Homo sapiens: one gene and its partners. The protein of the gene in region 4 purifies or fractionates together with the protein of the main gene of each other region. This does not show direct contact. Each region holds a gene or a part of one and is shown on either strand. Other genes may lie near its edges. The genes, in order: EDEM1, GXYLT1, METTL9 and CANX.

The links.
Region 1: the proteins of CANX (region 4) and EDEM1 purify together in Homo sapiens (affinity purification with western blotting; 6 studies listed by BioGRID and IntAct, with this or other methods). This does not show direct contact.
Region 2: the proteins of CANX (region 4) and GXYLT1 purify together in Homo sapiens (affinity purification with mass spectrometry; 4 studies listed by BioGRID and IntAct, with this or other methods). This does not show direct contact.
Region 3: the proteins of CANX (region 4) and METTL9 purify together in Homo sapiens (co-immunoprecipitation; 3 studies listed by BioGRID and IntAct, with this or other methods). This does not show direct contact.

Annotation. Positions count from the first base shown.
Region 1 is NC_000003.12:5,204,334-5,211,819, forward strand, and holds part of EDEM1 (ER degradation-enhancing alpha-mannosidase-like protein 1), read left to right. Parts: intron 1-733; coding exon 734-908; intron 909-2,819; coding exon 2,820-2,940; intron 2,941-3,759; coding exon 3,760-3,930; intron 3,931-5,841; coding exon 5,842-5,915; intron 5,916-6,786; coding exon 6,787-6,883; intron 6,884-7,486. UniProt on the Homo sapiens protein: Extracts misfolded glycoproteins, but not glycoproteins undergoing productive folding, from the calnexin cycle.
Region 2 is NC_000012.12:42,141,763-42,149,750, forward strand, and holds the start of GXYLT1 (glucoside xylosyltransferase 1), read right to left. Parts: upstream 3,113-7,988; 5' UTR 2,885-3,112; coding exon 2,664-2,884; intron 1-2,663. UniProt on the Homo sapiens protein: Glycosyltransferase which elongates the O-linked glucose attached to EGF-like repeats in the extracellular domain of Notch proteins by catalyzing the addition of xylose.
Region 3 is NC_000016.10:21,616,144-21,623,629, reverse strand, and holds part of METTL9 (protein-L-histidine N-pros-methyltransferase isoform 1 precursor), read right to left. Parts: intron 5,766-7,486; coding exon 5,556-5,765; intron 1-5,555. UniProt on the Homo sapiens protein: Protein-histidine N-methyltransferase that specifically catalyzes 1-methylhistidine (pros-methylhistidine) methylation of target proteins.
Region 4 is NC_000005.10:179,708,559-179,716,044, reverse strand, and holds part of CANX (calnexin isoform d precursor), read right to left. Parts: intron 7,068-7,486; coding exon 6,986-7,067; intron 6,173-6,985; coding exon 5,980-6,172; intron 147-5,979; coding exon of another isoform or gene 45-146; intron 1-44. UniProt on the Homo sapiens protein: Calcium-binding protein that interacts with newly synthesized monoglucosylated glycoproteins in the endoplasmic reticulum. It may act in assisting protein assembly and/or in the retention within the ER of unassembled protein subunits.

The DNA of each region.
Region 1 (7,486 bases), on a different chromosome or scaffold from region 4:
GTTGTTTTTATTATTAAAAAAAATTATCTTTTCCCTTTTCTTTTTTTTTTTGTCTTTTGAGACAGGGTCTCCCTCCATCACCCAGGCTGGACGGCAGTGGCACAGTCTCTGCTCACTGCAACCTCTTCCTCCCAGGCTCAAGTGATCCCTGGGATCAAGTGAACCCCCCATCTCAGCCTCCTGAGTAGCTGGCACTACAGGCACCTGCCATCGCACCCAGCAAATTTTTTGTATTTTTGGTAGAGACAGAGTTTCACCATGTTGCCCAGGCTGGTCTCGAACTCCTGAGCTCAAGCGATCCACCTGCCTCGGCTTCCCAAAGTGCTGGGATTGTAAGTGTGAGCCATCATGCCTGGCCACTTTTTCTTTTTAAAATCATCTTTTTTTGGATAAATTCCCAGGAATGGCAGTACTGGGTTAAAGTCTGTGAAAAACTCTTGGGTTTTGAAATGCATCGTCAATCTGGAAAAGCAAAATGAGAAACCTATTTTTATTTTGCATTAAATGTTTATCCCCATGTTTGTGTCAGTAAATGCTATATATTTAGAAGATGTCTAGGCTAAGTTAGTGATAAGACTGATAAAAATGTTAGGTCCAAGCAACCACCTCCTTCTCCTGTATGCCAAGGATAAAGGTGCTGAGGAGCAGTGTGGTTGGAGTAGGAGGCCTGTCTCCATTCATGTCCTCCCCGATGAGACAGCTGGGACCTCAAGTGCCTTGTTTATTTTTGCAGGCAATGTCGTGAACATTCAGACGGGCCACTGGGTTGGAAAGCAGAGTGGCCTGGGTGCCGGGCTGGACTCCTTCTATGAATACCTCTTGAAATCTTACATTCTCTTTGGAGAAAAAGAAGACCTAGAAATGTTTAATGCTGCATATCAGAGTATTCAGAACTACTTAAGAAGAGGGTATGTCTCCCTAACATCTCCTCTGTTGCCTTGTAAAGCAAATAGAATGCATTCTGAAGCGTTTGTATTTTTTTTAACACACAATCACAGGGTCTGTTTATCTCTGCCCTCACCTTACCACCTCTCCTAGTTTGTCAGTCATCTGGGGGCAAAGAGCTGTGTTATCTTTCTGTCGCTGCATAGCATAGTACCCCAGAACCTAGTGGCTTAAAACAACAAGCATTATCTCATGAAGTTTCTTAGGGACAGTAATCCAGGAGCAGCTGAGCCAGTCATTCTGGCCCAGGATCTCTCCTGAGGTTGTTGTCAAGCTGGTGGCCAGGGCCACAGCCATGCTAAGGCCCAATGGTGCTGGGAGATCCCCTTCCAGGCTCACTTTGGTTGCTGGCAGTCTTCAGTTCCTCTTTGGCTGTTGGCTGGAGGGCTCAGTTCTTTGCCAAGGGGCCTCTTTGTAGGTAGCTTATGGCCACTGGCTTCCCCCAGAGTGAGTGATCTGAGAGAAAAAGAAAGAGGCCAAAATGGCAACCACAGTGCTTTCATGACTAGTCTGGGAATGATATACCAATACTTCTGCCAGACCATTAGTCACCCAGATCAAAATGATACATTCAGTGTGGGAGGGGGCTGTGCAAGCGTGTGGCTCGCACGGATGGAGGTTCTCGGGGGCCGTCTTAGAGACTTGCTGCTACTACAGGGGCTGACACATCCCAGTGTTTAACTGTGGCTTTAATTGCAGATAGATCTGCAATGCAGGACAATGTTTTGGTTCTAATACTTTACAAAGAACTGTTAGGATTGGTTTTTATACTTGGTGATAGAAAGGACAGTTACCACATTTTTTTTTCTCTCTGAGTTTGTTTAAAACATTATTCACCATTTTCTGTTGTTCCTCCAGGATGACAGGAGAGAGAGAGCCATTTGAAGCTACAGTGGCTTCTACGTAGTGTCACTCTCTTTCCCAGATCTTTCTTTTTTTTTTTTTTTGAGTCAGAGTCTTGCTCTGTCACCCAGGCTGGAGTACAGTGGTACGATCTTGGCTCACTGCAACCTCTGCCTCCTGCGTTCAAGCGATTCTCCTGCCTCAGCCTCCTGAGTAGCTGGGATCACAGCCGTGCACCACCTTGCCTGGCTGATTTTTGTATTTTTAGTAGAGATGGGGTTTCACCATGTTGGTCAGGCTGGTCTCAAACTCCTGACCTCGTGATCCACCCGCCTCGGCCTCCCAAAGTGCTGGGATTACAGGTGTGAGCCACCACACCTGGCCCCCAGATCTTTCTTTGTATGTATTTCTATGTTAAGTGTCCAGTTTCAGTGCAAGTTATAGCTACTGAGCTTCCTGCTTGGATTTTCTTGGGTCCATTTCTACATTGCTGTTGTAGGAACCACTTGTATGTGCTATGTTTAAGTAAGGGGCCTTTTGAGTGGAATTTATTTATTTTTGCTTTTCAAAGCCACAAACTAAATTGAGCAGTAATCCCCAAGGGTCTTGCTCTGATGCATTTCTCCAGGCCCATGCTGTAGGACATTACTAGAGAAGAGACTCTTTGTACCAAAAGAACCAAGCTTTTCTGCTCAGGTGAAATCCAGCATAGGCCCATACTATATACTGAATTCTCTTATGTGGCAGGGCTCTTAAACCCAAAGCTCAAAGTGCTTTCTGCAGAATACTGTGAAATCCTGACATATTACAATGGCTGCGTTAGGAACTTTGATCCTGTGGAAAATATTATCTTCTGCTAGAGTCTAATGTAGATAATTAAAGGCAGTCTGTCTGCAGAGGTTTAAGGAATGAGTTAGGAGAAAAAATTAATGTTAATTCCGTTTAAATGAAACTACCAGCAGCTGCTGGAGAGGTAGAGATCTGTCAGTGAGCTTTCTTTTCACCACTGAATGTGCTGCTTGGGTTTGCAGGCGGGAAGCCTGCAATGAAGGAGAAGGAGACCCTCCACTCTATGTCAACGTGAACATGTTCAGTGGGCAGCTGATGAACACCTGGATTGACTCTCTGCAGGCCTTTTTCCCTGGACTGCAGGTATTTTGCCATCAGATTTCCTAAGAATAACCAATCACCAGAAAGGGCTTCTCCCTCCTTTTCTTTCTTTTTTAATACCCTGAGCATTCTCTGTCTCCTTTGGATTTGGGAGGTCACTGACACTATACGTCTTCATCTCTCTGTTTGAGAAATTAGTCTCCAGAATATTGAACAGAGCCATTCCACACAAGTGCAAAACCGTGCTTGAGAAGTGACTGTGTGTGATTTTTGTTTTTGTTTGTTTTTGTTTTGAGATGAAGTCTTCCTCTGTTGCTCAGGCTGGAGTGCAGTGGCGCAATCTTGGCTCACTGCAACCTCCGCCTCCTGGGTTCAAGAGATTCTCCTGCCTCAGCCTCCAGGGTAGCTGGGATTACAGGCGCCTGCCACCACATCCGGCTAATTTTTTGTACTTTTAGTAGAGACGGGGTTTCACTGTGTTGTCCAGGCTGGTCTCGAACTCCAGGCCTTAGGTGATCTGCCCGCCTCAGCCTCTCAAAGTGCTGGGATTACTGGCATGAGGCACTGTGCTGGGCTGTGTGAGATTTTTGGATAATCCATCGCTCAGTTGTTTATTCCTTGTTCATGAGTACACGTAATCTCTTTTTCTGTGTGCAGCTCACATCAATTTGGCATTAGTGGCCAGATAGGGAGGGCATTTATTTGTCTGGGTTGTCACTTTTGGGTTGGTTTTGTCTTTAACCGTATGTGTAGGTCAACTAAGAACTCGGGGGCAGAGGAGAGCCCAGGCAGGCCCTTTGTGCCATGTCTTGTCACTCTAGGAATGGTATCTCAGCCTGATGACCTGTGTCCTCTCCTTAGGTGCTGATAGGAGATGTGGAAGATGCCATCTGCCTTCATGCCTTCTACTATGCCATATGGAAACGATATGGTGCCCTCCCTGAGAGATATAACTGGCAGCTGCAGGCCCCTGACGTTCTCTTCTACCCACTGAGACCAGAGTTAGTGGAATCCACATATCTCCTCTACCAGGTACTAGAGTTGTGTTTTTTTTTTTTTCCTTTCACTGCCTCCCCTGACCCCAGCAGTTCATTCTTAATGAACATTTGCTGAGTGATTTAGGGTTATGTTGTTTCATAGTGACTCTGATTGAGTTACCCCCTATCCGTAGTCTTGTTAGTGTTCAGTGTCATTCGTAACTTCACAGGACAGAGAAGGCATCTGCAGTCAAATATGTTTTTAACCTAATATTCTACAAAGCTGAATCATGTTTTTACCGTAGGACTTATAACTCACATCTTTAAGTATTCATGAGGAAGATTTGGTACTAAGGTGTTTTCCAAATGTATGTGACCAGAAGACCCGTTTTTAGGATGCAATTCTGCATCAGTGTACTGTGGAGCCCCGGTCTGTGTAACAACTATTCAGACAAAAAGAAAATTCATTTTCTTGGTTGTAAAGGAAATCATCTTGGATTCATCTGGATGCCTGTTTTTGTTTAATGTTTGTGTTTGTGTGTGTGTGTGTGTATATATATATACACACACACACACACACATATATATGTAATAGTGTTCATCCTTTGTGAAATTACTTCAGTGGTAGAGGGAATGTGACTTTAACTGTGAAATGTCTTCTTCCTGACGGTTGAAGCCAGGTATTTATACTTCTGTGTATGCCATACATATATACACACTGAGAGTCCTCCTCCATCCACATGCACAGCAGCACGAGTGGTTAACTCACCAAGAAACTGGCCTTGGTGAAATTCAGTAGGCCGGTAACAGATGCCCACCGTGGGCCAGCCCTAGCAAGCAGGGCCTGAGTTTTAGAAACTCTGGTAGTGGGGAGTTTTAGAAACTCTGGTAGTGGAGCTAACACTAAGATTTGAATTTATTTATTCAACAATTTTTTTATACCAAATCCTTGCCGTTTGCTTCAGATGAAAAAAGGGGAAAGAAATCCTGTGAAACTGGTAGTAGTCCTCATGCCTAAAAAGGGACTTCATGAGTTTTAGGTAACCTCTCAAAAAAGGGAAAAGATAATAGCCACCTGTTTGGCCTTTCTGAGCCCAGTAGAAAGACTGTACACGGAGGATGGCGTGCCGGTTACTGGCTGATTTCTTCTCTTAAGCTTAGTCCTGTGGCCTGTGAGCTTACTCCTCTTTGTTTCTGTCACTGCTTCTTTCATGTTTTCCGTTTCTCCTTCACGTTGACAGAGATGTCTTGCACTCTTCAGCTTTACCCTCCGAAGCCACACCCTGTGCACTTTTAATCTGGAGACTGCTAACCTTGTTGTTTGTTGCTGCAATCTGGCACTAGGCATGAATTAAAGATCCCCAACTTTTAAACTGTTTGTTGGATAAAGGCTTATCTTCCCAGAGAAGTTTTTCTCTAGTAAAACCATCTAAGAGTATGTGTGAGAAGAGTAGGCAACTGAGGACTGATTTCTCAGGGTGATTAGAAAGGAAAGGGTGGCGGCCTCCTTTCATACTTCGGAAAGTCTTGTTCCCATCAGCCTTTCCTCATGGTGCCATAACTGGAATGGCGGCAAGGTCCTCTTTCCTGTGCCTGTGTCTTAAGTTTCTGGAGAGTTCTGAGGCAAGATAGAAATTGGATTTGTTCTCAGATATGGTGCTGTCAGCGTGGGCATTGTTTTGTTTCTAATCATGATGGCAACCAAAGTAGACTATTGTTCTACCCTGGAACAGATGGTCTTACCCCTGGCTAAAGTTAACCAAATCACAGGTACTCTTTGATGTGAACTGACGGAGTACCTTAGTCCTCTAACCATTGTGACCCTGCAAGATAAATGACCTGGGCCCTGTTTCTTCCTTTGGCTGGCGACTCGTCTCCATGGGGAAGCCCCGCAGTCACCATGATGTTTGTCGATGGCATGTCTTCCAAGCCCATGCTGGATCACATTCTCTCGTGTTCTCTCTAGGCAACCAAGAATCCCTTCTACCTCCATGTAGGAATGGATATTCTGCAGAGTCTGGAAAAGTACACAAAAGTCAAGTCAGTTTTCTAAGTTCCTACCTTTTTCTGTCAGCCACTTTTAATTTATTTCAAATTGTTTTGGGGAAATATCCTAGTTTGCATTTTAATTTATAGAACCAGGTCATTAATGTTACATTTACAGGGAAATTGCTTACCTTTTGGTGTAGTAGAACCTTTCCATTGTACTGAGAACTGCCCTTTCTTTTCCGTGAGGTTCTAGCAGATTATGGGTGTTCATTCTAACTTCTTTCCCCTAGTTATATAATAACATATACGCTAAAATGTTTAGGGAGTACAGAAAATATAAAGCAGTAGAATATTATCACTGTAATCTCCACATACAGAGAAAACTGTAGTCAGTATTGAAATGTATGTACTTATAATCTTTTAAATATTTTTATATATGATGTGTGTATATATGTATATATAAGAAACATACTCTATATTTCAATTTTGTGACATGCTTTTTTTTACCTGCTGTAAGTTTTTTTTTTTAAGTACTATCTTAAATAATAAGTCAATACTCAAATAATAAGTCAATTCTCAATAATAAGTCAATTCTACAAGTATTAGGACTAGAAATTTAAATTAGTCCTTTTACATTTGTTGCCGGTCATTTTCCTGGTGCCACGTTATGCTTCTGGCCAGCACCCCGCCACCACGCCCACACCCTCTAACTCACCTGATAATTTAGCAGCCAAAAGCACTTGCTAAGTAAATTTGCAAACAACCCAGGCTATAAAAAAGGAGAGCCCCTCAATGTAAACATAGTTTCATATGGTGTTGGATGACTGGTTGATTATTCTGATAAGAGAATGTTTCTGCTTCTTAAGTGAATCAGCAGGTGGGAAGGAAGAGAGGCAGGACTGACCAGATGATTGTTTTGTAGGTGTGGGTACGCCACGCTGCATCACGTCATTGACAAGTCCACAGAAGACCGGATGGAGAGCTTCTTTCTCAGTGAGACCTGTAAATATTTGTATCTGGTATGTGTGTTGCAAGATGAACCCAGGAATATTTAGTATTGCTTAGAGCAAGCATTCGCATAGTCTTCCATCTGACAGGTACTTACTGGCTAAAGCTATGTGCTGGACATTGTGCATTCCCAGGATGCAAACGCTGTCAGAACCAAAGGATATTACTATCTTCTTTCATGGTTTCCAACCTTGTTGAAAAGTCATTTGTCAAGTAAACCAAGAACTGAACTTATGATTACAAACTGTGGGAAATCCTGGTAACGATTGATACAGAACCAGTGTTAGTTCTGTATCTAACTACAGGTGGTCGGGGAAGACGCCTCTGAGGAAGAGAGCTGTGTTCATAATGGCTTCTCACTTCTCTTGATGTATGTGATCTTAGCCAAGACCTGCAGCTCAGCCTTGTCTCTGTCCATACACACATCCTCAGGCACATGAGTGAGTGAGTGTGTGTGTGTGTGTGTGTGTGTGTGTGTGTGTGTAGAGAGAGAGAATTTCTGGACCTGGACGAACCCTTTGGTATTACCTAATGTTCATATGTTCATCATTTCCCTCACAAGAACTACAGCCTACACAGAGGTCAGGCGACTTGCTCAAAGTATGGCGATGGCT
Region 2 (7,988 bases), on a different chromosome or scaffold from region 4:
TCTCACAGCAACCAGAGCCAGAATACTGAGAACACGGGTTTATCTGACTACAAGACCCATGTATTTTCTGATTATTAAAATCATGGCTTCAAACAGAATACACTAACGGATAAGAGATTCCACTGAAAAACTGTTCCTTTCATTTTAAAGTTCTTACTTCAAGGACTCCAAGTCTTTTGTCGTCATGAAATTCTATACCATGAATAGTTTTTATAAGATCTGACCAATGGAACTTACTGGGTACAAACCTAGATCCCGTGTTTAAAATAAAAAGAGAGAAATAGTTATAATCTTTCAAGTAAGATGTTATCAAAAAAGGCAAAAATGCAATAATACCTAAGTACTACTGAAAAGAGGAAGCTGCTGGCTTGCCCCATAGCCCCATTGCCCACTGAGTCCACTATCTAAACTAGACCCTTATCTTTCTTTACAGAAAGAGCTCTTGTATAACACTCCAAGGATACAGTTTCTAATCCTCCTCCAACACTGATTTGCTTTGGATCTTGGCCAAATGATTTATACATGAAGAGGTTAGGGATTTCTATACCGTATCTCATGGTGGCCAAAAAAGTTAATTTTTTTTTTTTTTTTTGAGACAGGATCTTGCTCTGTCACCCAGGTTGGATTACACTGGTGCAATCATAGCTCACTGTAGCCTTGAACTCCTGGGCTCAAGTGATCCTCCCACCTTAGCCTCCCAAAGTGCTGGGATTACAGGTGTGAAACACCACATTCAGTTAATTTTTTTTTAATTTTTTTATTTTTTGTAAAGATGGGTTGTTGACGAGGCTGGTGTCAAACTCCTGGCCTCCAGCAATCAATCATCCCCACTCAGCCTCCCCAAATTCTGGGATTACAGGCGTGAGCTACCGAGCGTTGCCAAAAGTTGATTTAATTCTATGACATTTCTATAAAGATGTTATAAATGACGATATACAAAATAGAGTCCTGAGGTCTTAGTAATTTGCGTGATCTTAATCTAACCATAGAGTAAAACTTCACAATCCAACTTTTCCACGTTGTTCCCCTGCCCAAATGGTTTCTTATGCGCGCAAATGTGGTGACATGCTGTTCTTCATCACATTTTTACAAAGAGAGATAAATACACCTATAGTTCTAACTTAGATGTACGCCTCATTTAAAATAAAGAGTAATGCTACTCAAAGGACCTAAAAAAGTACAGTATTTCGGTTGACTCAATCCTGACACATAAAACTTAACGTTTCAGTAATGATTATATTGGATGTTTATTAAAACTGAGGCTATTTTCGAAAATTTCAAATAATTTTATTAAAATTAGCTGGTCAAGCAAACAAAATTTGTAAATTTCTGTCACAAAATAAAATATCTAAGACCAAGGCACTAAAAATGTGATGTTAACATCAGTCTAATTTCATTCAATATTTAATTAAAATGTTGCTTCCTTACAATTCTACCCCATATAAAAATAATTCCTTTTCCATAATTGCAAATGCTTCACAATAACATACTAGGCCATAAACAGTTTAGCTTCAACCTGTCATTTTTCACGAGCTCATTCAAGTCTTCAGTGACTGCTTTCTCCCAGGACAGACAACTGAGGGTCCTGATGTAGGAATTACCCTGACTGTAATCAAATCTCAGGGTAAAAACATGACAAGTCCGCTTTCCACGCTGCTCCTCTGCCCAAACTTTCCCCTTTCATTCTGGGAATGACCATCGACTCTCAAAATGATGTTAAACAACAGCCCACAACTGATCTATACTCCCTCTTCCGACAAACCCTATACTTCTCTATATCAAAGCAGCATTTGCCAAGTCTTGGTAGGGAGCACTTCAGGTCATTCCCAGAGAGATGCCCATACATAAGGTGGAAGTGTCCATGTTGCAAGGCAGTGCAAACGCTCAGATTTCAAGCATTCATAATGCGTTGACAGAAACATTTTTTTTCTATTTAAATCTCATGTTGATTCCCACTCTGGCAGTGATTACGTCCTAAGTCATTACGTCGCTTTTTAAATACCAATTTGTCAAGAAAGGTAACTCCATCCCATCCAACAACAGACTTGAGCACGCCAAGTATCGCTCATTTTTCTTAATTTGCTCTAAGTTTCTTAATAAACTGAGTGTTTCCAAAAGAAAATTTCACAACCCGCACAAATGCCATTTCCAAATTTAACTAACCATGGCTAATACTTAGAAGTGTAAGCGTTAACACAGGAAAATCAGCATGAGGGACAAAATACACACACATATACACTCACACACACACACACAATCCTTAAACACTGAACTAGGGCGCCAGCCTCATGTTTAAATATCTCAACTTGAACTCCACTGAAACAAGAGGAAATTCTCACTAGCCAGGCAGCAGTAAGGCTTTTGTGGACACCTCTTATTTTCAAAGAACCCTCTTTTTAAAAAGTTGAAAATTAATTTCTAACTGCTTTAAAGGGCGCATGACTGGGTCAAAAGATAAACACAGAAAGTGTAGGACACTCTCAGGCGGGAGCAGCGCAGGTTTAGCCCCGGCCGGAGGGGAAGGAGGGAAATGAGTGAGGGGTCAGAGACAGGAGGAAAGACGCGGGAGACGCGGCACCCACCGGCGAGCAGCCCGGGCTAGGCCGAGCCCGCGCCCAGCGCCCCGCGCCCGCCGCGTCCCCCACACCGGGAACTGCCCGTACCTGTCCGACACGCCGGGATGCGCTGCGGGGCCCGCGACGCCGGCGCCTCTCACGGCGCCGCGTCCGCCGCCCGCGAGCCAGGAAGCCACCGCGGCCTGCGGCTTCCCGCCACCGCCGCCCGTTCCTTCTTCCAGGGACACGGCGAGCTGGCTGAAAGCGTAAAGGAGCGAGCAGAAGCCGCAGGCCACACACAGCACCACGACGCGCAGGTAGCGCCGCATCGCCCCGGCCGCGCTCCTCCTTCGCCGCCGCCGCCGCGCCCGCCCCGACGAACTGGAGCGGAGGGAGGGGCACCGCGCAGCCGCGGGCGCAACAAGTTCCTCACCCGCAGCCGCCGCCGCCGCCTTGCGCCCGCTCCCTTCCTTCCCTCCCCGCCCACCACCTAGGCGAGCGCAGTCGCGGCTCCGGAGCCGAAGGACTACCCGCCCGGAAGCCTGGACACCGCCTCTGCCGCCGCGCGCTCAAGGGTCAGCGGCAGCGACGCAACCCCGCCCCTCCCCCGGGCGGGAGGGCTGGACGCGCCGGCGCAGTTCGCGTGGGAGGGACGCAGGGCTGGCGCGCAGAGGGTGGTGTGAGTGCGCGGAACGCGGCGCGCCTGAGGGCTATAGCTAGCGCAGGCCGACGCGCAGGTGAATGGGAGCCCTGTGGGTCTCGACCGCCGAGAGAGGGGGAGCGAAAGCCTCAGGGCTCTGGAGGCAGTTGACCTAAATTCTAATTATGGTCCTTCCACATGGTAGTTTGTGACATTGGGCAACCTAAATTCTCTGAGCATGTTTCTTCGTCCCTAAAATGGAGCTACTATCCTCATCATGGGGTGGTTGTAAAGATTAAACTGTTTAACGCTCGAAAACCGCCTAACACTTAGAAGACACTTGACTAGGCCAGTTTCCTCTCCATCCTCCCCCAGCCTCTAAGTTTCTGTGATACTATAATGTGCACGAGCCATTTTCACCCCGATAAGCTCATTGCTTCGTGTGTTTGGTATGCGGACCTTACCTCTTGCCTCCCAGCAGACAGTGAGTTCCTGTAAGGCAGGGCTCTTCCCTTTGACCTTTTTGACCTCCCTCACAACTCATTATTTTCATGTGCAAAACAATTAGTATTCTCTCCACAGAGCTTCTTTCTTCCCCAGTTCTTCTCCCTCTTCTTCTGTGTTTCCACTACGTTCATTCATTGACCATTTATAAAGCATCACTTGTGCCAAGCTCTGTGTGAGTACCTAGGGGTATAAAGAGGCCTAAGTGGAGCGTGGGTGGGACAGCGGATACTTGTAAATAAGCGCAACGCAGTGATAACAGACTTAAGATCCAGGCCTGTAAGGGTGTGGGCATACACACAAAGGAACAATCAGTTCTATCTGTGAGTATGGTCAAGAGAGACTTCATAGCAAAGGTGGCGCTAGAGTCTTGAGTCGGGTAAGGGAAGTAATTCCAGGCTGAAGGATCAATAAACAGGCTCTTGTGTAGGGAACTGTTGAGAAGTTTGATACCACCAGCTAAGTGAATGCAAGAGAGGGTATGATGAGCGATAAGCGCGTAGAAGGGGCCAGATATTTGAGTGCTTTGTTTAGCACACCAAGGAGTTTGAATTTAATCTGCAAGACATTAGTGAACCATTGAAGGGTTTTTAAATAGGGAAGTAACATGATCACAATTGCATTTTAGAGAGCAGATTCTGGCTGTAGTGTGGAGGCTGAAACAGAGAGAGGAGAGATTGGAGGCAGAAAGCAGCACCAGTGCCAAAAAGTGAGGGAAGGGATACTTAAAAATACACACACACACGAACACACATTCATGGGGAAAAATCATGCGTTTAACTGCTGAAATTGCATCTGGGGCGTTGAAAAGTTTGGCCATGAGATACAAGGTGGGGAAATGCTGCGCAAAATAGTAGCAGTCTCCATTTGGATCCTTGGCTCCCTATACCAAAAAAGTAGTGGTTCTGTGACCATGATAAAGTCACTAAACAAATTTAAGGTTCAACTTCCTCCCCTTCTTGCTTTACCTGATAAAAAATGAACATTAGCATGCTATCAAGATGTGTAAAGAGAATGAGAACATACATTTATGCATTCAATAAACATTTATTGAACATATTCTACATGCCAGACAAGGGGCTCTGATGCAGAGTATTCAGAAATAAAAGGAGTGTACTGCTCTCAAAGGGAAAACAGGCAAATAGAAACCACAAGTATACTAAATTAATACTTCCACTACACCTTACACTTCTTAGAGAAATGAAGATAAACTTAACGAAGTATCCAGAATGATAGGAAAAGCATTGATAAGAATGAAAATACCTTTTGAGAGAAAGCTGAAAGATATGGTACCAAGAAACTAGAGTAAGAGCTAGTACTCAAAAAATGTTTAATTTAAAAGATACTAACTATAACTCTTCTCTATTTCAACAAAGAAACTAAACGTAGTAATAATTAAGAATAACTCCTTGACCCACAGATGGTTAAAATAATGGAATGGCAAAAAGAGAAGGCAAGCAGTTTTCATTTCTGCAACAATTTTATGAAAAGAGCAAATCAGGAAAAATAGCCACTCATTTATTGACGTCAGGGTACTGGACCATATCATCCTTTTAGGTTCCTTCTAATCCTGTAATTTTCTGTTGAAAAATTATATAAACCATTCCAAAAATAGAAATGATTTTTCTATTACTCACACATCATCTTAACTGGCTATCTTGGAGGAGCTGTGTGCATGCTGGCATCCCCTCTAATTATTAACCGGATTTACACGTTGCATTTTGATATTCCTAAAATTAAGTTAATGAAAGCGCTTTAACATATTTGATGTCACAACAGTTAGGTGTTTCTTCCATGTACTGCGTGAAGGTATGTATTCCTAAATCTATTTTTTTCTCTCTATACCAGTCTCTTAATTCTCTAATGATAGACTGATATCCAAATTTTTAATCCATGTTGACCTTCATTCATCGTATCAAATAGGTAAATTTAGGTGGAGAAAAAGTAATTTAAAATTATCAATATTTGTTGTTTAGGAGATAGAGATCTCCATGATCTGGAAAATTCTCTGATTCAGAATTAAGCCACATCTCAATAATTTTATATTTAAAAGATTAATCTTGATTTTTCGTATAGCTCTTAGTACATCCTGGATATATAATAGGCGTTCAATTAATGGGCGTTTTCTTTTTTTTTTTTTTTTTTTGAGATGGAGTTTTGCTCTGTCACCAGGCTGGAGTGCAGTGGCACAATCTCAGCTCACTGCAACCTCCGCTTCTCGGGTTCAAGTGATTCTCCTGCCTCAGCCTCCTGAGTAGCTGGGACTACAAGCGCGTGCGTGCCACCAGGCCCGGCTAATTTTTTGTATTTTTAGTAGAGACGGGGTTTCACCATGTTGGCCAGAATAGTCTCTATCTCCTGACCTCGTGATCCACCCACCTCGGCCTCCCCGAAGTGCTGGGATTACAGCGTGAGCCACTGCGCCCGGCTCCCATTTTCATTTTTTTAAAATGTCTTCTCTAAATCAGTCTAGAGCAGATTTGGGGGCCTGCTCAGCATTTTCTTTACACTTCTACCTTAAGTACTTGATTCCTTAAAAAAAAAGACATGGAGAAAGTTAAATTCTACACCTTTTCAGAGTAAAATTCAAAAACTCTTTTTGCAGGAAAAAAAAAAAAACCTTTTTGCATGACTTCCATTTTATAAAGGTCTATGCATAATGGAATTTAATCCTTGGCTGGGCACGGTGGCTCACACCTGTAATCCCCGCACTTTGGGAGGTGGAGCTGGGAGGATTGCTTGAGGCCAGGAGATCAAAAACAGCTTGGGTAATATAATGAGACCCCTCTTTCTACAAAAAAAAAAAAAAAAAAAAAAAAAAAAAAGTTTAATTTAATCTTTATAGCATTCCTATGAAGTAGGAGATGTTATTCTATTCTAAAAAAAAAACAAAAAAAACAAAAAAAACAAAAAAAAACGAGCCTGATAGAGATGTGACCACAGATAGCAAGAAAAATTTAAAAATAAAAACAATCCCCCCCCAAAAAAAGCAAACAGCCTGAAATTCAGAAATGTTCATTTACCACATGGTTAATAATAAGATCCAAAATTCAGATAGAAATCCTCTAAGATTTCTATTTCTTGTTCTTTTCCATTACGCCATGCTATCTCACTAGGAACAAATAAGCACTAAATGGAGTGGTACAAATTCAAATTGAAAGCAAAAAGGGAACCAATGTTATATGAAAATCTTTCAGACTGATCTTAGAGTCTAAAACAACATTTACAATCAGTGAAATGCAAGTCAGATTAGTAGCAGAGCACAAAGAATCAGAAACTCAGGCTAAAAGTAAAATTCATTCTCTCCGCTAGTGGGCTTCTAGTATATTTCCCCATTTTCCACAGTCCAATTCCTAGAGACTTTGTTGGACTGGAGGAAAAGTTGGAAAATAATGTTTAGTTTGCACAAAAATCTCATTTTATGTGTTCATTCAGACCAGTAACTGTAGGGAAAGAGTCAGAGGAAGGATGAAAGAGTAAAGTGATGCTCTTCATTCTTAAAAACACGTTGCTACAGGCCACAAGAGTAGAAAAAGAAGTAGTGAAAGATTAAAAAATAAATAAATAATTTAAACTGAAAAAAGAAAAGCGGTGGAAAACTAATTAATGAGGATGCCTTAACCTCCTATATGATACCAGAATTTCGCTGACATTTCCATCTACAAGGTAGGGAAAGTGTACAGTGGGCTAGGTGGGAAAGAGAACGAGGAATATCCTCTGGATGTCCCTCTATTTCTCCCTGGTTCAAACTTCAAGAACCCTGCATACCGATTAGTAAAACAGAATATATTATTTTTAAAAAATAGTAACGGCCAGGCGCAATGGCTCATGCCTGTAATCGCAGCACTTTGGGAGGCCAAGGCAGGAAGGTCACTTGAGCTCAGGAATTCAAGATGAGCCTGAGCAACATGGTGAAAACCCGTCTCTATAAAAAATGCAAGAATTAGCTGGGCATGGTGCTGTGCATCTGTGGTCCCAGCTACTCGGGAGGCTGAAGTGGGAGGATCACTTGAGCCCAGGAGGTGGAGGTTGCAGTGAGCCAAGATCACACCACTGAATACCAGCCTGGCTGACAGAGTGAGACTCCATCTCAAAACAAAAACAAACAAACAAAAAAAATTGTCAGTAAAATATAAAGCTAGATTTGTAGGGAAATTTAGTCATGACGAAATTTTGAATTAAAACACCCATAGGCCAGGTGTGGTGGCTTATGCCTGTAATCCCAGCACTTTGGGAAGCCGAAGTGGGTGGATCACCTGAGGTCAAGAGTTTGAGAACAGCCTGACCAA
Region 3 (7,486 bases), on a different chromosome or scaffold from region 4:
CAATGTTGTTATCTCTAGAAAGGGGGAGTTTTTATATCAAGAGTCTTTGTTAGCCACACAATTAGGCAATTTTACAAATTACTTACTCCTGCTTGGTTATACCAATCAGAATGTGGTAGGTGAGATATGTTATGATAGAGACAGGTAAAAAAGGAAACATAAAAAAAGGATCTTTGGTAAACAAGTCTTTAGTAATGTTGAGCAGATACAGTAAGATAGCTCAGAAAATTCTAAAAGTATAATGAGGGTTGTTTTGAAAACCTCATTAGCATAATGATATTTAGAGCATTTCTGAATAGCAGAATTTTAAAAACACAAAGCACTTAGCTGCATTTTCTTTTCAATCTATATTTTTGTCAAACTAAAGCCTCTTCCAAATAGCAGCCTAACAAACTTCCAGGGACTAGTCAGATTCCTTACTGGTGCAGGTGTTTCATTGCACTAAATACTGTTTGAAATAAGTAGAGCATTCAGGCTTTAAAATCACTTTGTTGTACTAAGTCAACTGTAATAGCAATTTTGGAAATTCAATTTAGCTCATTCCAAGAGTTTCCAAACATTACTAAGAAGACTACTTTCAGAACAAAAATGTCATCAATTCCCATTCTAAAAAATGGAAATGAATAAAGAAAGGACTATTTGTATATATTAACGCCTTAGCTAAGCAGCCAATTTAAAGACACAAATTGTAAAACACAAATTATATATTTGATTTTTAAAAACAAAACAACAAAAAAAATCTGATGTCTATCTGCAATGAAGCAGAAGCCAAACATCATCAGCATGTTCTAATCTAGAATAATCTCACTAAACCTACCTCAGAATGAGTTTCAGATAGGTAGCCTCTGTGTTGGTAATTTTGGAAGAGAAATATATGCTCATAACACAAAAAGGTGACTAACACTAAGACAGTTAAATCTATACCTATAGAAGCTCAAGTGCATTCTTACTTCTGTTTTGTGATTTTTATTTGTAAACTCACTCAGTTCCACTGATGAAGACAAATTGCTTAGCCCCACTAAAACTGCGTATTAGCCCAGGAATCCTAACAAGTTGTCAGAATTTTCCTTTTTCTAAAACAGTATTTCTAAACCTAGAATGAGGGTATCTATTCAAGTGATTATTATTTTCAAGAAAATGAGTTAATACTTCCAGAAGGATGTAAAATATATTTCTCCTTAGAGAATGATAAAGCAGTCAGGTGCAGTAGCTAACATCTGTAATTCCAGCACTTTGGGAGGATCGCTTGAGCCTAGGAGTTTGAGACCAGCTGGGGCAACACAACAAGACCCCATCTCTATAAAAAATTAAAAATAGCCAAGGATGGTGGCACACACCTGTAGTCCTAGCTAAGCTACTTGGGCAGCTGAGGCAGGAGGATGGCTTGAACACAAGAGTTTGAGGTTACAGTGAGCTATGATTGTGTCACTGCACTCCAGCCTGGACGACAAAGCAAGATCCTGTCTCAAAAAAAAAAAAAAAAAAAAAGGCCAGGCATGGTGGCTCACACCTATAATCCTAGCACTTTGGGAGGCCAAAGCGGGCAGATTGCCTGAGCTCAGGAGTTCAAGACCAGCTGGGCAACACAGTGAAACCCCATCTCTACTAAAATACAAAAACTTAGCTGGGCGTGGCAGCATGCGCCTGTAGTCCCAGCTACTCGGGAGGCTGAGGCGGAGGCTGCACAGTAAGCCGAGATGGCACCACTGCACTCCAGCCTGGGCAACAGGGAGAGATTCCGTCTCCCAAAAAAAAAGATGCCTTGCCATCTCGGGTTGGGAGAGCTCTAAACTTAGGAAATAAGCAATCTGTATTTTGATAATTCCTAAATAAAAAATGAAACACTAACAATATAAAGAAAACTGTCTTGCTGTAAAAATCAAAACCACATCCTTTAGTTTTACAATTGGGTTTTCTGGCATAAACAATGACAACTTGCGAATACAAAGGAAAAACCTGGCCATTTTCTGTTTATTGACCTATTTTTGAAATGCAGAAACTTTGGCTGGGCGCAGTGACTCACACCTATAATCCCAGCACTTTGGGAGGCCAAGGCGGGCGGATTGCCTGAGTTCAGGAGTTCGAGACCAGCCTGGGCAACACAGTGAAACCTTATCTCTGCTAAAATACAAAAAATTTAGCTGGGTGTGGCGGCATGCGCCTGTAATCCCAGCTACTTGGGAGGCTGAGGCAGGCTAATCACTTGAACCTGGGAGGTAGAGGTTGCAGTGAGCTGAGATTGTGCCACTGCACTCCAGCCTGGTGATGGAGCGAGACTTTGTCTCAAAAAAAAAAAAAATTACAGAACCTTTATTTAAAAAGGTGTGTTTTGCTCATGCCTGTAATCTCAGCACTCTGGGAAGCCAAGGCAGGAGGACTGTTTGAGGCCAGGAGTTCAAGACTGGCCTGGTCAACATAATGAAACTCCTGTCTCTACACACACAACACACAAAAACACACACACACACACACACACACACTCTCTCTCTCAAATTAGCCAGATATGGTAGCAGGCACCTGTAGTCCCAGCTACTGAGGAGGCTGAGGTGAGAGGATCACTTGAGCCCGGAAGTTCAAGGCTACAGTGAGCTATAATCACGCCACATGCTCTAGCCCAGGTGACAGAGAGAGACCCGTCTCTAAAAATATATATATATAAATTAATAAAAAGCCTGTTTTTCATGGCCCAGATATTGAAGAGAAATAGAAAATAGCTCTAATCTCAAAAGGAAGAAAAAAATGTAAAATTCAGCTGAAAGTCTGCCTTGCCATCTTGGATTGGGTGACCTCTAATCTTAGGAAATAAAGATACTACTTCCTCATTAAAACCTCAAACTGCACCAATAGTCACAAAATTTACCACTTTTGTGAAAATGTTTTCACTTCATACTAATATTATGAAAGGAATGCCAATCAGTATGAATTTCCCATGCAGGTCAAACTGCAGATTTTTGGCTTATGTGCTGTATATTAGGGAAAAAATTAAACCAAGTATTTTTTATGTGGTAGATATCTTTACATACCATGTACACTCCAGATATATTACTAATTTCAAACATCTGAAGTTTCCCTGAAAATTCCATTTAGGCACTTAGCATCAAAGCAAAAGAAGGCTGGGGCGGTCAATCATCTGAAGATGGGTTTAACACCTTCCTCTTCGACCCACTTCAAAGCATGGATTTTTTTAAGGGGGGGAGGTGGAATCAGATTAGGAATTCAGCCTGACTTAAGCCACTGTTATAACAAAGGTCAAAGCATTCTAAGTTTTGAAATGCCGAATTAATCTCTAACTGAAGGAAAACATGTCAATTATCACCATGCAGACCCACCAGAACCTTATCTGAGACAGCTTGCTAAAGCTAAGGGGCTTTCAAATCACTCAGTTCAAACTCACACCTTCCTTATGTCTCTTCCTATAACAACCCTAACAGCAATTTAAACACTGACAGTGATAAGGACTTAAACAGTTCAAGCTAGGAAGGTCGATCTCCCTAAGCTGTAACTCAACTTCTAAGGCGTAGCTGTGCCTGATTACACCAGAGACTATACCTATTCCTTTCCTTCCATATAAAAATCCCACAGCGTATCTGTTCACAGAAATCTTCCCTTCTCCAGGCTAAAAATCTCCATGTTTTGCAAATGCTCAAACCAGTCCTGCTCCAAAAGCTACACTGATGCTCTATCTCTAGGATTAATCTGTAAAAGTAGAAACATGTGGATAGGAAAGTGAGTGATTACATAATTTCTTCTCCTTTCTTTCTAAGGCTAACCAGACTTCCAAAAATATCACAGAGAAAGGCTGACTCCAGCTCTACCTCCCTGATTCTGCACTGAGCCAATATATAGAAATCTCCCAATCAATAAATCATACTGAAATAAGAATACCCTTCTTCCAGCCGGGTGCAGTGGCTCACGCCTGTAATCCCAACACTTTGGGAGGCCAAGGCAGGCAGATCACGAGGTCAGCAGTTTGAGACCAGCCTGGCCAACATAGTGAAACCCTGTCTCTACTAAAAATACAAAAAAAAAAAAAAAAAAAAAATTAGCCGGGCATAGTGGCATGTGCCTGTAGTCCCAGCTACTCAGGAGGCTGAGGCAGTAGAATTGCCTGAATCCAGGAGGTGGAGGTTTCAGTGAGCTGAGATCACGCCACCGCACTCCAGCTTGGGCAAGTGAAACTTCATCTCCAGAAAAAAAAAAAAGGCCCTTCTTCCTAGTCTTTCAAACTCCAGATGACCTTAAAACCAAGATTAACACTGATGACTATAAACTAAAAGCAAAACAAAACAGAAAATAGCAAGTATTGTCAAGGAGTGGAGAAACTGAAACCCTTGTACTACATTGCTGGTGGGAATGTAAAATGGTGCAGCAGCAATGGAAAAGTATTGCAATTCCTCAAAAAATTAAACCCAGACTTAGCCATGTGATCCAGCAACTCCACTTCTGGGTCTATACCCAAAAGAAGTAAAAGTAGGGGCTCAAGTCGGTATCTGTACACCCATGTTCATAGCAGCATTATTCACAACAGCCAAATGGTAGAAACAACCCAAATATCTACTGACAGATAAATGGGTAAACAAAATGTGGTACATGCATACAGCGAATTATCATTCATCCTTAAAGAAAATTTTGGGCCAGGCGCAGTGGCTCACACCTGTAATCCCAGCACTTTGGATTACTTGAGGTCAGGAGTTCGAGACCAGCCTGGCCAAATAGTGAAACCCTATCCCTACTAAAACTACAAAAAAATTAGCCAGGCATGGTGGCATATGCCTGTAATCCCAGCTACTTGGGAGGCTGAGGCAGGAGAATTGCTTGAACCTGAGAGGTAGAGGTTGTAGTGAGCCGAGATCGTGCCACTGCACTCCAGCCTGGGTGACAGAGCAAGACTCCATCTCAAAAAAAAAAAGAAAAGAAAAGAAAAGAAAATTTTGGCCCATGGTACAACATGAGTAAACCTTGAAGACATTATGCTACATGCGATAAGCCAGTCACAAGGAGCTAATGTATATAATTCCTCTTATACGAAATACCCAGAATAGTCAAATTCATAGACAAAGTAGAATGGTGGTTGTCAGGGGTTACGAGGAGGGAAAAATGGGGAGTTATTGTTTATTGGGTACAGAGTTTCCGTTTCGGAAGACAAAAATTTCTGGAGATGAATAGTGGTGATGATTATGCAACAATGTAAATGTACTTAATACCACTGAACTGTACACTTAAAAATAGTTACAACAGTAAATTCTATGCTATGTGTATTTTACCACTACTTAAAAAAATTTTTTTTGAGAATGCCACATTCTGATTAGGGAAGAAGTCCCTTCTTCTGATCTGCCTTTTCCAAGTTGTCTCTCGCTAGTGCTTTTCTTACCTATAGTGCCAACCCCTCCGCTCCAGAAAAATACTGCTACCAGAAGATTATTTCTCTACATTTCCAGTTAATTATGTATGAGATGATTTTTTAAATTTCTAATCATGGAAGATCATTTTTTATTCATATCCTTTAAATAATATACTTTCAAGAAGAAATGCATCTAAAACCAAGAAAATTATACCTGTATTTCTTTTTCTGAAGCTGCCATATCATAGTTTCAGAAAGCTCAGTGGCATAGATTTCTTCAAAATGAGGGCTCATGATTTTTGTGACTTCTCCATCTCCAGCACCTAAATCAAGAAGTCTGTGGGTTTTCCAGTCTGGATTAATTTTAAGCAGTCTCTGAAACTGATCTGGTGAAAACACAAACATTGAGCCTCTTCCTAGCAACCTGAAAGAAAAAAAGGACAAAAATGGAAGTGTCTATGCAAATTAAGCACCCCTCACATACACACACAAAGTGAATATAGTGACTCAGCACCAACAACCATAATCACTTATTACATGGTTAAGATTTTTTTTTTTTTTAGACAAGGTCTCACTCTGTCACTCAGGCTGGAGTGCAGTGGCATGATCTCGGCTCACTGCAACCTTCGCCTCCTGGGTTCAAGCGATTCTCCTGTCCCAGCCTCCTGAGTAGCTGGGATTACAGGCATGCACCACCACACCCGGCTTATTTTTTGTATTTTTAGTGGAGACAGGGTTTCACCATGTCGGCCAGGTTGGTCTCGAACTCCTGACCTCAGGTGATCTACCCGCCTCGGCCTCCCAAAGTGCTGGGATTACAGGCATGGGCCACTGCGCCTGGCCTAATTTTTTTTTTCTTTTTTTTTTTGAGACAGAGTCTCGCTCTGCCGTCGCCCAGACTGGAGTGCAGTGGCACGATCTCTGCTCACTGCAAGCTCCGCCTCCCAGGTTCATGCCATTCTCCTGCCTCAGCCTCCTGAGTAGCTGGGACTACAGGCGCCCGCCACCACACCTGACTAATTTTTTGGATTTTTAGTAGAGAAGGGGTTTCACCATGTTAGCCAGGATGGTCTCGATCTCCTGCCCTCGTGATCCACCCGCCTCTGCCTCCAAAGTGCTGGGATTACAGGCATGAGCCACCGTGCCCAGCAAAGATATTATCTTTTATGTCATTTCTATGATTAGAAGACAAAGTTAATAAAATAAGAAAATGCCTCCAGATACCATTTGTCTTTGGAGTTGCAAATAATGCCCCAAAAAAGCATGGGAGGAGGGAAATAAAAGGTGGAAAGTGGAAAGGATGACAGGGGAAGGAAGAAGAAATAAGTAAGAGATGAATGTGAAGAACTTAAGTCAAAATAGGAAGGAAAAGTGGAAGGAGTAACAGAAAACATGTTTATCAGTTGAAAAAGATGACAAGCTAACACAGCCAGACCACAGTAGCAGAGAAACCAAATAGGAAAAAAAAGTGATTTCAAATATGGAACTAAACCATGGATCAGGAAAAAAGAGCTTTAGTATAACAGATTTTTAAGAGACACTAGAGAAAAGAGGGAAAAGAGTGGTCCTTGTGATGTCGGTTAATATGCATTAAAGTAGATTCGTACTTATGTCAGTTTATATGGTTACAACTGTCTGGGTCCTATTATTTCTAAAGGTCCTAGAAAACACTCAAAACCATAGTGATGCCTTTGAAAAAAGAGACTGAGGGGAGTTTAACTGGAGATTGAAGAGAACCCTCAGAAAAGCAACTATAGGTCCAGCCAAGTCTCATGGAAGCATCACTCTGGGAAATAAAGCGCAATCCCTATTTAGGACTTGTTTTCTAGCTCTGAAATTCTAGTTTATCTAGGACAGGGATTCTCAACCCTCCTTTAAGCAGCAGAACCCTTTCTTTAAATGAAGTGGAACTCACAGATAACATAAGATCCTAAGAGAGCTGCTGCTGTTCGAATGAGGTTGGGAGCCCAGGAGCTGTGGCCAGCCCACTTCTAGGCCTTTCTCTGCAGCCTGAAGCAGTTCCTGAGGCACTTCCTCCTCAGACCCTAGAAAACAGTTTGGGGACCACTGGTCCAGGAAGTGGCAGGGAAACCTGTTCTGTACTGCTGCTCTCTGGAAACAATCATAAGGTACAGAATGTTTGCT
Region 4 (7,486 bases):
TACAAAAGATCATGACTTCTAACGTGAAGCAGCAGAAGTCTGACCTGAGGCTTTGGGGTAAGAACAATGCCTGGCTCCTGGGGTCTTGGGGAAGCTAACGCCCATTTCCTTATGCACGAAACATAAATGATTAGTCCCTCGGCTTTCTAAGAATTACAGCAAATGATAGTTAAAATCTTTAACACCAAAGACTTGACTTATAGACACTAAAAAAAAAAAACAAAAAAAACAAGAAACTACATAAACTAACACAATTATTGGGCTTACACATATACACCAGTGAGAAGACAAATACGTGGACTTACAACTACTTCCCAGTACAAAAGGTCCATTTCTTCATTTTTAATAGAGCTGGTATTATTACGTTACTGAAATTACACAAACCTCCAATTTATTAAAACGCATGTCCACTCATGATTCTACTTTCTACTTTTTAACTCCCATGGAGAATGAAAAAACAATTTTAAATCCATAAAAGCATTTTTTAAAATTTTATTTTATTTTTTTGAGACAGAGTCTCGCTTTGTCTCCCAGGCTGGAGTGCAGTGGTGTGATCTCGGCTAACTGCAACGCCCGCCTCCCAGGTTCAAGCGATTCTCCTGCCTCAGCCTCCGCAGTAGCTGGAACTACAGACGGCCCCGTGCCACCATGCCCAGCTAATTTTTTGTATTTTAAGTAGAGATGGGGTTTTGCAATGTTGCCCAGGCTGGTCTCAAACTCCTGAGCTCAGGCAATCTGCCCAACCTCAGCCTCCCAAGGTGTTAAGACTACAGGTGTGAGCCACCGTGCCCAGCCACATGGGCCCCATAAAAGCATCTTAAGTGTGATGTATATTAAAGCCCAGATTCCACACCTAGATATCTAATACACAGGAGACTGAGTTACAGCACATCCAAACAAGGAATCCTATGCTGCTGTGTCAGTGATAATGAAAATGAATATTTCTGTGAGGAAGAACTTCACACTCTTTTGTTGTTAAGAAACGGGTGTGGTGGCTCATGCCTGTAATCCCAGCACTTTGGGAGGCTAACGCAGGTGGATCACTTGAGGCCAGGAGTTCGAGACCAGCCTGGCCAACATGGTGAAACCCTGTCTCTACTAAAAATACAAAAACTAGGTGGGCATGTTGGTGCACACCTGTAAACCCAACTACTTGGGAGGCTAAGGCACAAGAATCGCTTGAACCTGGGAGGTGGAGATTGCAGTGTTTCTGTCTCAAATAAAAAAGGGCCGGGCGCAGTGGCTCACGCCTGTAATCCCAGCACTTTGGGAGGCCGAGACGGGCGAATCACGAGGTCAGGAGATCGAGACCATCCTGGCTAACACGGTGAAACCCCGTCTCTACCAAAAATACAAAAAATTAGCCCAGCGTGGTGGTGGGCACCTGTAGTCCCAGCTACTCGGGAGGCTGAGGCAGGAGAATGGCGTGAACCCGGGAGGCGGAGTTTGCACTGAGCGGAGATCGCACCACTGCACTCCAGTCTGGGAGACAGAGCGAGACTCCGTCTCAAAAAAAAAAATAAAAATAAATAAAAAAATAAAAAAGTTAGATATAGCATGTAAAGTTGTATATGTGTATATACACATATTGACAAATATATATCACAATGCTGATGTTTAAGATAATTTTAAGTGACTTCTTTGTGTATGTTTTTATTGACATATCGTACTTGTACATATTTTCGGGGTACGTGTGATATTTTGATACATGTATATAATGTGTAATGACCAAATCACAGTCATTGGACGGGCCCAGTGGCTCATGCCTATAATCCCAGCACTCTGGGAGGCTGAGGCAGGCCCATCATTTGAGGTTGGGAGTTCGAGACCAGCCTGACCAACATGGTGAAACCCCAACTCTACTAAACATACAAAAAAATTGGCCGGGCATGGTGGCGCATGCCTATAGTCCCAACTATTCAGGAGGCTGAGGCAGGAGAATCGCTTGAACCCGGGAGGCAGAAGTTGCAGTGAGCTGAGATCAGGCCACTGCACTCCAGCCTGGGCAACAGAGAGAGACTCCCATCTCAAAAAAACAAAAAGAACAAAACAAAACAAAACAAAACAAACAAATCACAGTAATTGAAATATCTGTAACCTTAAACATTTACCTTTTCTTTCTATTTTATAGAGACAGAGTCTCATTCTGTGACCCACGCTGGAGTGCAGTGGCCCAATCATAGCTCACTGCAATCTCGAATCCTGGACTCAAGGGATCCTTTTATACCACAGCCTCCCGAGCACCTGGGACTAGAGGTACATGCTACCAAGCCTGAATAATTATTTTTTTGTAGGAACAAGGTCTCACTATGCTGCCCGGGCTGGTCTAGAACTCCTGGCCTCAAGTGATCCTCCCACCTCAGCCTCCCAAAAGCGCAGGGATTATAGGCCTGAGCCACTGCACCTGGCTCCATTTACTTTTTCTTTGTATTGGGAACAGTACAATTCTCTTCCAGCTCTTCTGAAATACACCATAAATTGTTCTAACTATAATTTCCCTACTGTACTATCAAATATTAGAATTTATTCCTTCTACCTTATTTCTGTACCAATTAACCAACTTGTCTTCAACCCCTCTCCCTCGCTTTAAGTGTTTTCTTTTTGCTTACTTATGGCTTCTGAATTTCTATACCTTAAATATGTATTACTTTTGGAAATAACAAAAAAAGGTTAAGCTGGGCTCAGTGGCTCACGCCTGTAATCCTAGCACTTTGGGAGGCCGAGGTGGGCGGATCAACAGATGGCCAAGAGTTTGAGATCAGCCTGGCCAACAAGGCTCTACTAAAAATACAAAAATTAGTTGGACATGGTGGTGTGTGCCTGTAATCCCAGCTACTGGGGAGGCTGAGACGGGAGAATCACTGGAACCTGGGAAGCGGAGGCTGCAGTGAGCCAAGATGGCGCCACTGCACTCCAGCCTGGATGACAAAGCAAGACTCCGTCACAAAAAAAAGAAAAAAAGGTTGTTATATTCTAGGCTGGGTACAGTGACTCACACCTGTAATCCCAGCACTTTCAGGAGCTGAGGCGGGCAGATCACTTGAGGTCAGGAGTTCGAGACCAGCCTGGCCAACATGGTGAAACCCGGTCTCTACTAAAAACAGAAAAATTAGCTGGAAAAAAAAAAAAATAATAATAATAAAAAAAAGAAAAATTAGCTGGGCATGGTGGCACAAGCCTGTAATCCCAGCTACTCAGGAGGCTGTGGCAAGAGAATCGCTTGAACCCGGGAGGCAGACGTCACAGTAGGCCAAGATCACGCCACTGCACGCCCACCTGGGTGACAGAGCAATACTCCGCCTCAAAAAAATTAAAAAGGTAGTCCAGGCGCGGTGGCTCACGCCTATAACCCAGCAGTTTGGGAGGCTGAGGCGGGCAGATCACCTGACGTCGGGAGTTTGAGACCAGCCTGACCAACATGGAGAAAACCCATCTCTACTAAAAAAAAAAAAAAAAAAATTAGCCAGGCGTGGTGGCACATGCCTGTAATCCCAGCTACTTGGGAGGCCAAGGCAGGAGAATCGCTTGAATGCAAGAGGCAGAGGTTGTGGTGAGCCAAGATCACACAATTGCACTCCAGCCTGGGGAACAAGAGTGAAACTCCATCTCAAAAAAAAAAAAGGTTATTATATTCTTCAGAAAGAGGCATGCCTATTTATGATCTCAAACTAGCAGGAAAAGCTTCAATAAACAAACAAACCAAAAAAAACCCTGTATCAAAATGATTCAACTCAATTGTCAATTGTCCAGGTATTGGAGCATCCAAATAAGTTCAACTACAAGATACTTCTGAAAAACTATTTTTATTGGATTTATGTATAATTATAAATATAACTTATTCTATTATTCAACATTTCTCAACAACAACAACAAAAAAAAGGAAGAAATTAGATCAGCAAAGCTCTTTGTAGAAAAAAAAAAAAAAAACACCTTTTTTTTTGGAGTGGGGGACGGAGTCTCACTGTGTTGCCCAGGCTGGAGTGCAATGGCATGACCTTGGCTCACCGTGACCTCCGCCTCCCGGGTTCAAGTGATTCTCCTGCCTCAGCCTCCTGAGTATCTGAGATTATAGGCGCCCACCACCCCACCCGGCTAATTTTTGTATTTTCAGTAGAGATGACGTTTCACCATGTTGGCCAGGCTGGTCTTGAACACCTGACCTCAAGTGATCTGCTCGCCTCAGCCTCCCATCGTGCTGGGATTACAGGCATGAGCCACCATGTCCAGCAAAAAATACCAATTTTTTTTTTTTTTTTTTTGAGACAGAGTCTTCCTGTCGCCCAGGCTGGAGTGCAGTGTCACAATCTGGCTCACTGCAACCTCCGCTTCCAGGGTTCAAGCAATTCTCCTGCCTCAGCCTCCTGAGTAGCTGGGATTACAGGCACCCTCCACCATGCCCGGCTAATTTTTGTATTTTTAGTAGAGATGGGGCTTCACCATGTTGGCCAGGCTGGTCTTAAACTCCTGACCTCAGGTGATCCGCCCACCTCGGCCACCCAAAGTGCTGGGATTATAGGCACGAGCCACCATGCCTGGCCAAAAACACCTATTCTATTCTTAAAATTATCTCGAACCTCAGTTCCTGTGGAAAAGAAGTTTTTTGGGTTTTTTGTTTTGTTTTTTGAGACAGCATCTCACTTTGTCACCCAGGCTACAGTGCAGTGGCAAGATCATGGCTCACTACAGTCTCGACTTCCTGGGCTCAAGCAATCCTCATACCTCAGCCTCCTGAGTAGCTGAAACTACAGGCACATGCCACTATACTCAGTTAATTCTTAAGATTTTGTAGAGACAGGGTCTGACTATGTTGTCAGGCTGGTTTGGAACTCCTGGACTCAAGCAATCCATCCGATTCAGCCTCCCGAAGTGTTAGGATTACAGGTGTGGGCCACCATACGTGGCCAAGAAGCTTCTTTTAATGCTGACAAATTAAGGTCATTTCCCAACTAAGATACTAAAGTGAAGAGATTCTTTTCTTTCGTGGAGGGGGTACAGAATCTTCCTCTGCCACCCAGGCTGGAGTGCAGTGATACAATCTTGACTCAACTGCAACCTCTGCCTCCTGGGTTAACGTAATTCTGCTGCCTCAGCCTCCCGAGTAGCTAGGATTACACCAGCTACTCAACACCACGCCCAGCTAATTTTTGTATTTTTAGTAGAGACGGGGTTTTACCATGTTGGCCATGCTAGTCTCGAATGCCTGATCTCAAGTGATCCGCCCGCCTCAGCCTCCCAAAGTGCTGGGATTACACGCATGAGCAACCATACCAGGCTGAGATTCTTCTTGTTTGGAGGCTGGGGTACTCTCCAGATATACAATCTTTTTTTTTTTTTTTTGAGATGGAGTCTTGCTCTGTCTCCTAGGCTGGAGTGCAGTGGCGCGATCTCGGCTCACTGCAAGCTCTGCCTCCCGGGTTCGTGCCATTCTCCTGCCTCAGCCTCCCAAGTAGCTGCGACTACAGGTGCCCACCACCACGCCCGGCTAATATTTTTGTATTTTTAGTAGAGACGGGGTTTCACCATGTTAGCCAGGATGGTCTCGATCTCCTGACCTTGTGATCCACCCGCCTCGGCCTCCCAAAGTGCTGGGATTACAGGTGTGAGCCACCGCGCCCAGCCTTTTTTTTTTTTTTTGAGATTGAGTCTCACTTTCGCCCAGGCTGGAATGCTGTGGCACAATGATCTTGGCTCCCTCCCAGGTTCAAGCAATTCTCCTGCCTCAGCCTCCCAACTAGCTTCGGTTACAGGCGTGCACCACCATGCCTAGCTAATATTTGTATTTTTAGTAGAGGTGAAGTTTCAACATTTTGGCCAGACTGTTCTCGAATTCCTGATCTCAGGTGATCTGCCCATCTCGGCCTCCCAAAGTGCTGGGATTACAGGCGTGAGCCACAGTGCCCGGCCAGATATACAATCTTTAAATTAAATGGATGATATATATGTAATACCATAAGCCCCCAAACTAATGCTTTTTCTTACTTAGTGTGTAAAGATGTGTTTTCTTATCAGTAAAATAGGTCTTCAGATCTGCATCTGGCCTCTTAGCATGTTTTTCTTCATAGATACCCGTTTTGGGGTTTTTGTGTCGGAAGATGAAGTGCAGTTTATAGTCCTCTCCACATTTATCTGGACCAAACATAATCGTATAAGGGGTCTTGTCATGGAACTGATCCTTCAAAAACAAAAAAGGATTATTTGAAGTCACTGTACTCAAAGTGTTCAAAAGCAACGTTTCAAAAGTGTATGATAATTCCTCTTATAAAATTCCAAATATATTAGTGACAGTTAAAGGAAAAGCTAACTACAAGTTTGTTTAGTAAAAAGGAATAACCAGCAATCATCAGTAAATTTAAAATAACGTTTAAGTGTCTAAAAAAAAGTAATGCACACATCTAGACAGTTATTGCTTCCTCATAAAACAAAGAAATAAGCTTGCCAAAACTAAAACTTACACAGAAGCAAAACCAGAAATTCAGATAAAAACAGTTGGTAACAACTTTGTAATTTACACTTCAAATAAAAAGCACGTTAGCGTCAAAGTCAATTTTCCCAACTCATCAAAAGAGTTAAACAGCAGGGGAGGAAGCCTTTATTTTCACAATTATTACAAAATTCTCTTTTTTTTTTTTTTGAGATGGAGTCTCGCTCTGTCGCCCAGGCTGGAGTGCAGTGGCGCAATCTCGGCTCACTGCAAGTTCCGCCTCCCAGGTTCATGCCATTCTCCTGCCTCAGCCTCCCAAGTGGCTGGGACTACAGGCGCCTGCCACCACGCCTGGCTAATTTTTTGTATTTTTAGTAGAGATGGGGTTTCACCATGTTAGCCAGATAGTCTCAATCTCCTGACCTCGTGATCCGCCTGCCTTGGCTTCCCAAAGTGCTGGGAGCTAGGATTACAGGCGTGAGCCACTGCACCCGGCCCAATTACAAAATTCTTACAAGGTAATAGTGGGTGTCCAGCCACATTCCAGAAATGGGAATTACATACCAGGTTGAGTTCTGGTGTTTTAGAAAGCAGTTTCACATAGGCACCACCACATTCTATTCCATTTTGGAAATTAACCTCATACCTAATATCAGAGAGAAAAGCAGAAAACTGTATGGCATTTTGAAAGATCGAAACTCTCTTAATGTATTTCCTCTCTCCCTCATCTTAGTCACGTTTTATCATAGGTCAAATGTTTACCCTTACAAAGGATTCCATCTTCTATTGTTTTTGAATAGTTATCAAATGCCACAAAAATAAATAAAATTAAATTGAACATTAATGCAGATTTCCAGTAAATTTGTTCTGCAAAATCTACAAGTTATTTAGAGTCAGGAAAATGAGTAACCAGTTTCTTTCAAAATAATGCATTAGGCAGGAAAAACTATTAATTACTAGTTTTGTAATTAATTAATTACAAAAACTATTAATGCAGATTTCCGGTAAATTTGTTCTGCAAAATCTACAAGTTATTTAGAGTCAGGAAAATAAGTAACCAGTTTC